2 separate regions of the Homo sapiens genome follow, and region 1 is linked to region 2. The links come from fine-mapping of genetic effects on gene expression. A gene starts in region 2. The other region holds a variant in brackets. All regions are shown on one strand. Distances are from middle to middle. Region 1 overlaps NCOA7 (nuclear receptor coactivator 7). Region 2 holds the start of NCOA7 (nuclear receptor coactivator 7).

Region 1 (5,381 bases), 24 kb after region 2:
ACTTTCTGGAATTGAAATCCTAACCACTTTACCCATTGAAATCCTAACCACTCTGAAAGGTTTATCACCTCAAGCAGAATTGAACTTCACATCTTTTGGATTCTTACTTAGTATTATTCATTGGACAGCCCCAAGTTACTACCCTACAGTTTAGTTATCTGCACAGTCATATTTTCCTGACTGGATGGAAAACTCTTTGAGGGTGAAGCCCAAGTCAGGGATGTGAAGATAAACTAGTAAGAGCTGAGACTGTGTACTCCCATGTTTCTGTACAGGGCTGAATGAATAGTTGTCAGGCTTCCAAGGTGATCTCATCATCATATTGTTTTTTCTCCTTTTCTTCCTAACCACAAGCATATGCTGATAATTTCTAATTCCTTTCCTCTAGCCTTCACTGCCCTTCTGTGCTTTCAGTGTAATCAAACGTCTGGTGAATGTCTCCAACTCCACTATCCCATAGCCGTCTCAAAGGCACAATGTCCACAACCGATTTCTTACCTCCTTCTGCTCCCCTGTCCTACATGCAGCCTGCCCTTTTCATGTATATTGTACTAGATCTTCGGTGCCGTAACCCACGCAGTTCCTGAAGCAGAAACTTGGAGGACATCCTTCATTCCTTACTTTCCTTGTTATCTACACTGCATGACTCATCAAATGTCAACTCATCAGTCTCCTAAGTATTTCTTGAGTCCATCCCTCCTCTTTCTATGTCAACTACTGCTGCCTAGTTTTGGGTGCTCCTCCCTCAATTAGTTTGACTGTAATTTCTTTTTAATGAATCTACTTCACCCTGTCCTTAAATCCTCTCACGTCAATCCTCTACCTCTGCCGTCTGATTATGCTACACTCCCTCATGGAGAACCCTCTGGTGGCGCCCTTCCATGTACCTTGGGGATGAGAAAATTAGTTTTATCTCATGGACCAGCTCTGATGGATTTGGTAATGGCTCTGCAAATGCTGCCGCTGGGTTCAGCATGAGCAATTGATGGCCTCTGACAAGGTGCAGTGAAGGGGGTGGGCTGCACATAGCCAGCTAGGATTAAGTCCAAGCTCCTTAGAGCAGCATACAAGGCTTTCCGTGACCCAGATCCTGCCCATGTCTTCATCCTCAGCTCACTTTACCCTGGAACAGAAGGGAACAATTTTGTCTTCTTGCTTTTGTTCAATTGAAACCTGCTTGCTCGTACCCTTTACCTGGGAAATGCAATTTTTTTTTTTTTTTTTTTTAGACGGAGTTTTGCTCTTGTTGCCCAGGCTGGAGTGCAATGGAGTGGTCTCGGCTCACTGCAACCTCCGCCTCCCAGGTTCAAATGATTCTCCTGCCTCAGCCTCCCAAGTGCTGGGATTACAGGCACCTGCCACCACGCCCGGCTAATTTTTGTATTTTTAGAGAGATGGGGTTTCACTATGTTGGCCAGGCTGGTCCCGAACTCCTGACCTCAGGTGATCCACCCACCTCGGCCTCCCAAAGTGCTGGGATTACAGGTGTGAGCCCCTGCGCCTGGCCGGAAATCCATTCTTAACCTACAACCTTAGTGTGTGCTCAGGATACCTGGGGTGGGCCTTGCATAGTGTTAAGTGTTATTTGTTTTTAATTGGCAAATAGAAATTATATATATGTTTTTTTAATGATATTTTGAAAATATACATTAGAAAATGGCTAAATTTAGCTAATTAAGTATTCCTGAGGTCTATTTTTCAGCAGTACATATCACATTGTCTTGAAATCCTAAGTGTCTCTCCTGAAAGACAATATATACTGTTAGAGCAAATATCATGTCTTTATCTTTGACCTCTGGGACTTATCACACTCCCTTTCATGTAGTATGTATTGTGGATTAATTTGTTTATTGAATTGAAATGAATTAGTAAATAATTTTGATTGTGAATACACTTTGCTTTATTTATTTATATTTACTAATTTTTTTTTGAGACAGAGTCTCCCTTTGTTACCCAGGCTGGAGTGCGGTGGTGCCATCTTGGCTCACTGCAACCTCTGCCTCCTGAGTTCAAGCGATTCTCGCGCCTCAACCTCCGGAGTAGCTGGGACTGCAGGCGTGCACCACCATGCCTGTCTAATTTTTGGTATTTTTGGTAGAGATGTGGTTTCACCCTGTTGGCCAGGCCGGTCTCAAACTACCAATCTCAAGTGTTCTGCCTGCCTCGGCCTCCCAAAGTGCTGGGATTACAGGTGTGAGCCACCGCACAGCCTGCTTTTTTTGATTTAAATTTGATAGGTGAACAAACTATTGCTTCAGGGTGAAAGGACAAATTTTAGGAATGTTAGTGCTCTGCAGAAATTTAGACTGGTGAATCACTGAATAAGTAGACAATTGGAAATTTTTGAGCAGGGGAGTGGCATGATAAAAGTGGTATTTGAGGAAGCTTGATCTGGAGACAACCTTTTTTTATATTATAGGCTTAAGCCACTGCTGGCAAGCGTGGGTGAGGGTCGCAGGGGTGGAGAAGAGGGAGACGCAAGGGTTTAAAGCCATGCTGAGGAACAGCTTCCTGTGTCTTTGTACTTTCATTTCCACATTTGCTCAAGTGGGATGTACTTGCTGGCATGTTTCCGAAAATAAAATAGAGTGCTGAAGTTATTTTTATTTTTTTAAAAAAACATTCTTGTAAAACACCTAAGTGAGCCATTTTACATAATTATCTGAGACATATGCCTTATTAATTGCTTGGGAAGAGTGATTATGAGTTCAATTTTTTTTTAAATAATTAGCATCTACATAGTTAGGCTACAATCTTCCAAAGTCAGTGAAGGTTTTTATTTTGGCATGTTTTAAAATAGTTGTTAGTTGTGAGGAAAATACTGCAGTTTGGTTTTCCATCAGGTTTTGCTTTATAGTTTAACATCTCCATTCTGATTGTAGTT[T/C]CTCCCATGGACATTTGCATTTCATATTTGACTCATGTGACTGTTTCCTGGTTAAAGTTTATTTTTCATTTGTTTTAGTCCATGTAGTTCTACTCCATTTTATTTTTCACATTGGCCAGTGTAAACTTTTAAGTTTACAGTTGCTTTGTTATCTTTTCTTACAGGGTTACGACTCACTGATTAAAAAGAGGGACTTTTTCAAATACTTTGCACTTTTGATTGTGTATTATGGATACCAAGGAAGAGAAGAAGGAACGGAAACAAAGTTATTTTGCTCGGTAAGCATTCATTTTACAAAATTGTTATCAGTACTTTAAAGAAATATTTGAGGGGACTTTGTCCTCAAGTATTACTTCGCATTTTGTGTTTTGTGCTTGTTCATAAATAGAGCAGGTAACCAGGAGAAGTAAACTATACTTTGCTTCATCCATTTTATTCATATTAGAGGAGTGTAACATTTGGTTCTTCTCTTTCTAGCTTTGACACTTCTCTCAGGCCAGTGTTGCTCAGCGAATCCAGCTGTCATGCTCTGACCTGCAAATTGCTCCAAATCCCATGTTTAGCAACCTACCTTGAATTTTAAATCCTAAGTGCTTTGTTCCTACTGTTCTGTAGCTTAATAGGTTGGACTATAACTGAAAATCTCTGACACATTTAAAGCTTATCACCTTGTGGGGAGTCTATTACTAAGAAATATTTTTGTAGGTAGGTGAAATGGGTGAAATTATATTTTTGAATCAGAGTCATTTTTAAGGCTGGAACTTGTCCAACATAAATAAATTTGTTGATATCTGAATAGAAGTAATGTAGTATATGATTGGTTACCATTTACAGATTTAAATGTCTATGTGGCACTCACTAAACATAATAAAATGAATTATATGCTAAACATTTGTAAAACATTTTGATAAGCCAGAATGTTTTCAGACTCAGAGAACATAGGCTTAAAAACATTATGTTTCTCCTAAATTGAAATACATGTTAAGAACTGAATTTAGCCTCATTCCATCCCCAGTCCCCAGGCTGTGCTCATTAGAGATGCATTTATTATTTTCTAAACATGAGCCTTGGAGCCAAAACCAAAGTTTGTTGTTGATGTTTTTATCTAGTAATTAAGCTAGATTTTAGGTTGATAATGGGAAAAGGACAGAAACAATTTAAGGACCTACTATGTACTGAGTGTTTTACTTATTATTTTAATTGCCTTCAAAATAAATCTATGACATCGGTTAATTTATCTCCATTTTACCAGTGATGCAACTAAGACTCAGAAAATATTTTGTCCATTTCATGCAGCATAAGAGTCAGTATTAAACATAAGGCCATCTCCAAAAGGCATGCTCCAGTTAGGAATAGTAAATCATGAATAAGGTTTTGGGGAAGCACAAGTTAAACTACCAATTGTAGTAAAATATTTTCTGCTATTATGACTACAGAGAGTAACCAGATTAGGGAAGGAAGACATCAGGCATCTAATGGATGAGGCACCAGAAAGATAGGATATTTAGAATAAATAAGATCTCCAAAGTTTTTATTTTGAGATAATTTTAGATTCACATGTAGTTAGTTGTAAGGAGTAATAGATACCCTGTATTCTTTATCCATAGTACAGTATCACAACTAGGAAATTCATATTGATACAATCCACCAGCCTTATTCAGAGCATTCATTGTATGTGTGTTTGTGTGTATTTAGTTCCATGCAGTTATATCACATGTAGATTTCTGTGGTCACCATCAGTCAAGATACAGAACAGTTGCATTAAAAGGATCCCACATGCTACCTTTTTGTATCCCTACTCACTCCTTCCATCTGCCTGCCTCCTCTGACAACCACTATAATTTGTCATTTCAAGAATACTAGGTGAATGGAATCATATAGTATGTAACCTTTGGCATTTAGCTTTTTCTTCCCTTCAGCATTACTCCCTTGACATCCCTCAAAGCTGTTGCATGTATCGATAGTTTGTTCCTTTTTATTGCACAGTAGCATTCCATAGTATGGATGAATCACAGCTTTTTAGTCATTTACCCATTGAAGGGCATTTAGGTTGTTTCCAGTTTGGGCTATTTATGAACAAAGATGCTAGATGCTACAATCATTTATGTACAAGTTTTTGTATGAGCATGAGTTTTCATTTCCCTGAGATAATTGTCTGAGAGTGCAATTGCTGGGTCAAAAGATAAGTGTATTTTTAGTTTTATAAAAAAGTGCAATACTCTTTTCTGGAATGGTTGTAACATTTGACATTCCCATCAGCAAAGTCTGAGTAATCCAGTTTGTCTGCATTGTCATTTGGTGGTGTCAATATTTTTTATTTTTATCTTAGCTATTCTGATAAGTATGTAGTGATATCTCATTATGGTTTTAATTTGTATTTCCTTAATGGTTAGTGAAGTTTAACATTTTCATGTGCTTATTATTAGCCATAGTGTATCTTCTTTAGTGGCATCTCCTTTCCTATCTTTTGCCCATTTTCTAATTGAATTGTTTAGGT
Region 2 (5,381 bases):
TGGGATTATCTCCTTTAATTCCTATATCCACCCTATAAAGTTGGTACTGTTACCATTCTTTATGGATAAAGCATATCCTTTACGGATAAAGCAACTGAGGTTAAGTAGTTTACCCAAGGTCAGCACGTGGTGGAGCTGTAGTCTGAAGCCAGAGCCTGAATTCTTAAAGATTACCATGTTCTTAAGAAGTACACTTTCTACTGAGGTTTGATCTGTAGTATACTAAGATTTCCCAAATTATTTCATGTATTATATCTTATCTCCCAATTAAAATTTGACCTTCTATTTAGGGCAGCACTGTTCAAAAGGATTTTCTGCAATAATGAAAATGTTCTAGTTTGTGCTATCCAAAAGCACAGTCTAGCCATAATTTAAATTTAAACGGCTACAAGTAGCTAAGGCATACAGTACTGGACAACACATGCAAGGAAGAGTTTCATTTCTTCCGATTTATCTATAAAGCCAAGGCTTAGGTAAATCAGTTAATGGAAAGGAACAAGTGAAGAATCTTTAGGAGGAGTTTGTACTCCCTTAGCTGGGGAGCAGAAATCTTTATTATATCAGGACTTTCAGTATAATAAAAATGTTATAAGAAGCATATGATACAGCATGCAGTCCTAGAGGAGTTCATAAAGATGGATTCTTACATTCCTTGCAATATCTTTGGAAGACCTTTTTTTTTTTTTTGAGATGGAGTTTCGCTCTGTCACCAGGCTGGAGTGCAGTGGTGCAATCTCCGCTCGCTGCAACCTCTGCATCCCGGTTTCTAGTGAATCTCCTGCCTCAGCCTCCCAAGTAGCTGGGACTACAGGACCCACCACACCCAGCTAATTTTTTTTTTTTTTTTTGTATTTTTAGTAGAGATGCGGTTTCACCATGTTGGCCAGGATGGTCTCGATCTCTTGACCTCGTGATCCGCCCGCCTCGGCCTCCCAAAGTGCTGGGATTACAAGCGTGAGCCACTGCGCCTGGCCAGAAGACTGACGTTTTATAATTGATGGTCACAACTTTAAAAATTCATACTCAGTTATAGGTTTTTGTCTAATAAAAACATCACTGCTTAATTTATTTACAAAACATGGAGTCCATAGAGAGAAAAACAACAGGGGCCTCTTGATAGTAAAAGGATGAGAAACAGGGAAAACTTGTAAGTCAATGGACACTTCCTTCAGAAACTACATTCAAAACTTAAAAATTTTGTTAAAGAGTAAGCAACTGCCAAATTCTCCTAAGTGACTTCAACGTGTTACTTATACATCAGATATGTACATACATATTCCTATAATCAAGTAATTCTAAGTTTGGGAAAATATCATAAATAATAATAGTTATCTTTTGAAAATAAAGTGGGGCTCTAGATCAACCAGTGTCAGGAAGCAGCCAAGTCACACCCCACTGGGTGCTTCCTGGACAAGCGCAGTGCAGCTCCCACAGGGCCTCACACCCAACCTTCAATTTGCTTAAAAGAACTATCTCAAAAAATCTTAGCTATTTAGTCACAATTTGTCCTTGCCAGGGAACATGTTTTTCTTTTGCCTGATTTTCAATAACCTTAGATTGCAAAATCATAAAAGCACTCATCAAAGAACTGTGAGAGCAGCTCAGCTTCCCTGGAGATCTCAAACCATGTTCCTTTGATACAATGCAATCAGCTCTTTATACTTTAGGAACCTAATTTTCCCTTACTAAATGCTAAACAATTTACAAATAACACAATGGCTACAGAAAAAAAAAATCCAACATCTTTACATTCAAATCCCAAAGATATAAACCTGACGTCTAAATTAATACGTGCTTAGTGCAAAACTGGGCAATTATTCCACATTTGCAAGACAGTATAACATGACCACCTGCTGCTGAAATGCCAAAGCCACCACTGTTAACGCTTTGCTCCGCCTTCCAGAGAGGTTATTACAGCTTAAGCTGCGTCAACAACCCAGAGGAGGCTGCTATCTAGTTTATCTGTGTGGAAGGCCTGTAACACACTGTTAACAGAGTAGTTGCAGGCCCTTCCTTGGGATATTTTTCTGCGTATAAGAGTGAATGAACTCCACGGCCAGATCCTCCTAGTCATGTTGCAGTGCTGGTCATGGGACCGCAGAGGGAACAGCACCCAACTGGGGATGGGGAGCTCACAGGCACAGGCCCCGCAGCTGATGCAAACCTTCCCCCTCCAAGGTTCTCTCGAGTCTCTGCCAAGAGTCGGCTGGAGGGCCCAACTGCTATGTTCTTATTGCTGTAATGACTGCAATTTGGCAGCATCCAGGATGGTGTACCGGGAACGGGAGGGGGAAGGAGATGGTGGGCCCCTCTGTTAAACGCAACGCCAGAAGGGACACAGGATGAATTTATTGTGGCCATCGGTCCTGAGCTGGAAGGAAAGTCAAAGGGCTTTAAAGCTGGGGAAAAGCTCTAACTCCTGCTCTGCTGTCAAAGCCTTACTTCCCACGAAGAGTAGGGGCCAGGCGGGCCAACTGTAAGGGGGAAGCGGCCCGGGGTGAGGTAAGAGGACCCTCCTAGGTGCCGCTGCCAGGCGGCGGTTCGCTGGGGCAGCAAGGCGCCCGCACTCGGGAGGCGCCACAAAGGGCCGAGGCCTGCGGAGGCCGCACGCGCAGCTCTCCGGGGCGGAGCCGCCGGGATCGCGGCAGCGGAGGCTGCAGCAGCCGCGGGTAGCCGGGGTGCCCAGCCTCCCAGCTCGGAGGTCGCGGGGGGCGGGGAGGATGCCGCAACTGCAGTCCGAGCGGCAGAGCCCGGCGCGAGCTCCCAGGCCCCCGCAACCGCTGTGAGGCGCAGCGCGCGCCACTGGCCGGGAGGAGCTAGAGGCGGGCGTCTGCACAGCGTCGCGCCACCCGTGACTGCCCGCCTTCAGCCGGGCCCGGGACCCCGTAGCGGCCCATGCCCTGACGGGGGGCGCAGCTGCGGGGCTGGCGAGGCGTCGCGCGTGGGAAGAGGCCTAAGACACCCCGACTGCGGCGGCTGCGCACACCCGATCCGGACGCGGGGCCCCGCGGGCGCGCGCCTCGGAGCTCCCGCCTCCTCCTCTTGCTCCTCCTCGGCGTACGGTCCTCCCCTGACCCCTCCTTCCACCCGCCGAGAGGATGCGCTCCCCGGCGCCCAGCAGCAGAGGCCACCGCTCCCAGAAATGCATGCGACCGATCCCCTTCTCCCGGACCCCAGGAGCCGGCGCCCCCGCCCTGTAGGTAGGTGGTGAGGCGGGGCCCAGCCCTCGCCGCCGCCCGCCGCTGATGCTGCCGCCGAGAGGCCGCGAGCAGGGTCCAGGACCGGCCAAACTTGCCTCCCGCCGGGGGCTCGGTGGAGCGCTCGGAGGTGTGCTAATGGCGCTGGGCGTAGCCCCCTGTGAACCTGAAAACCTCTGCTTGAGCTCGGGAGGCCGAGCGGGGGCGAAGGAGAGATTGACCCTTCCCCGCCCACCCCTTGGGGGGCTCGTGGGGGTGCGCGCCAGTACGAGAGTGGGGAGGACAGGTTGGCATGGGGCTTATTTGGGGAGAAGACCGTTGGATTTTCAGCAGCTCAGGTGGAAATATGTCACTGTGTTTTTCCGGCTGGATTAGCAGATGCGTTCTTCCCATCTTTCTAGCCAAAACATGTAGACAGGCAAAGGGTTATTAGTGGCATGTAGAAGTCGCTGTGGATTTTTGTGTATTTCAGAGCTAGCTAGTTGGTATATAAAATCGATGGGGCAAACCCTTACCGTCAACACGTTAGGGCCAATTTAGAGAAGGTCCTTCTAGAAGTCAGATTATTCTGGAGATCGATGAGGCTGGGATATTGTTGTGCTGAGTATTTAGGAGCCTCTGCTTACGTGAAGGGATGTGTTTTAAGAGTGGCAACTTTGATACAGGTGTCGGGAGTTGAGATTCTGCTGGAAAGATGTACCGGGTCAGCCAGCAGAGGCAGCCTTGTGCCCAGCCTAACTTCCAACTCGATGTTATGCTCTGTATTTCTCAGAAACTGGTTATGTATTAATGCTTTTTTTCTCCTCTAGGTGTAAAGTTTATACATCAGAGCTTTTGGCAAGATTCCCTCTTCCCAGACTATCATTTTTTATTTTATATTCAGCAATAAGGCTTAAAGTTTTGAAAAATGCATCACTGTAAGCTCCAATTTTATAGTCACTTAGGTATAGAGATTTGGAGAAGTGACTCAGTATAAGCTCAAATAGGACAGAATCTTGAATCTGTTTTTTTTTAAATCCTGTAATCTTCTGCATCTTATGCAGAATAAGTACCCATTAGTTATTTGTTGAATGAATGAACTGTGTTTCAAGCTTTCATCTAAAAACCACAATTTAGAATCACAGAATTGTTCTGTAGCCGGTGAAATTTAATTGAATTTCAAAAATTGCCTCTTTGTATAAATAGGCAAACTCAGTTATTTTAACATTTATATTTCAATTCTGACATCTTTAGGACCATATGCTATCTTTCTGTAATATGTCATCAAGGTTATGAGGTAATTCTCCCCAACTCTTAAGTTCATTTCATGTCTAAGCTTGCAAAATTTCCAGTCTCACTGGTAATCATGCCAACTTCAACTGTGCTCTCAAACACAATTTAAAAAGTAAAAGTCGTGTTTTAAAGAAAATTGTAAGTTACGCCAGAGGAAACAATGATTTGGTTAATAAGTGATGTATTCACTTATTTTAGAGTTGAGTTTTTCAGGTTTGATCTAATTATCATGTCTTTTATCACAGGCAAAAGTAGAAATAAAACATGTAGAAGTGTCTGTGATTCTTAAATGATTCAAAATGTGTGATATAGATACACAATTTAAACTGTTTTCTCCTCGGTATAGAAACACATCAGTTTCCAAATTTGACAGCCAGGGGATTGTGAAATGAGGGTTTGCAAGATACAGTGTCTTCCTGCTTTAAAATGTTATATCATTTTGAAAAAAAAAAAGAAAAACAAGGTTAACTGCATCAAACTTTATTTGCTTTATTTTTACACTATGACATTTTCTGTTTTGATTTCATCTTTTTTCCATCACATGAATTTCATGAGTCAGTGTGAACTTCTTTCAGTCTCTGCTTAACAATATTATCTGGGCATGCTCCCAGGTTTTCTTTCTGACATTTTAATGCATCTTTACCATCTTCACTTCATATTACTCAAATGACTTATTTTTACACAATATGGTAGGCCATACTTTATTACTATTGCTTCTCCAACCTACTTATTTTCTTCCTAGATGGATAAGGAAATAAAACTTTCCTATAAAAGTTAATAAGACTGCAGGAACCAACAGTGGGAGGGAACTTATGAAAAAAATTAATTTGTTATGATTTATTAAAACAAAGCCAAAATTCCCTCCTGTAATAAAGATAATTACATTTTACACTTCTTAAATTTGTAACCCAG

The links.
Region 1: its variant is fine-mapped to the expression of NCOA7 in whole blood (TOPMed, PIP above 0.99).

What each region holds. Positions count from the first base shown.
Region 1 is chr6:125,812,243-125,817,623 of GRCh38, forward strand. It overlaps NCOA7 (nuclear receptor coactivator 7), which reads left to right. Exons shown (of 16, transcript NM_181782.5): 2 at 3,049-3,162. The coding sequence starts at 3,113. The region is part of intron 1 of NCOA7-AS1 (NCOA7 antisense RNA 1); the gene reads right to left. Among named protein-coding and RNA genes, the nearest start is that of NCOA7-AS1, 3.9 kb to the right of the region's middle. The variant T/C (reference allele first, on the strand shown) is at 2,885.
Region 2 is chr6:125,787,868-125,793,248 of GRCh38, forward strand. NCOA7 (nuclear receptor coactivator 7) reads left to right here and starts at 3,093. Exons shown (of 16, transcript NM_181782.5): 1 at 3,093-3,200. RefSeq lists silencers at 1,826-1,925, 2,516-3,355 and enhancers at 2,379-2,879, 2,880-3,380, 3,576-3,675.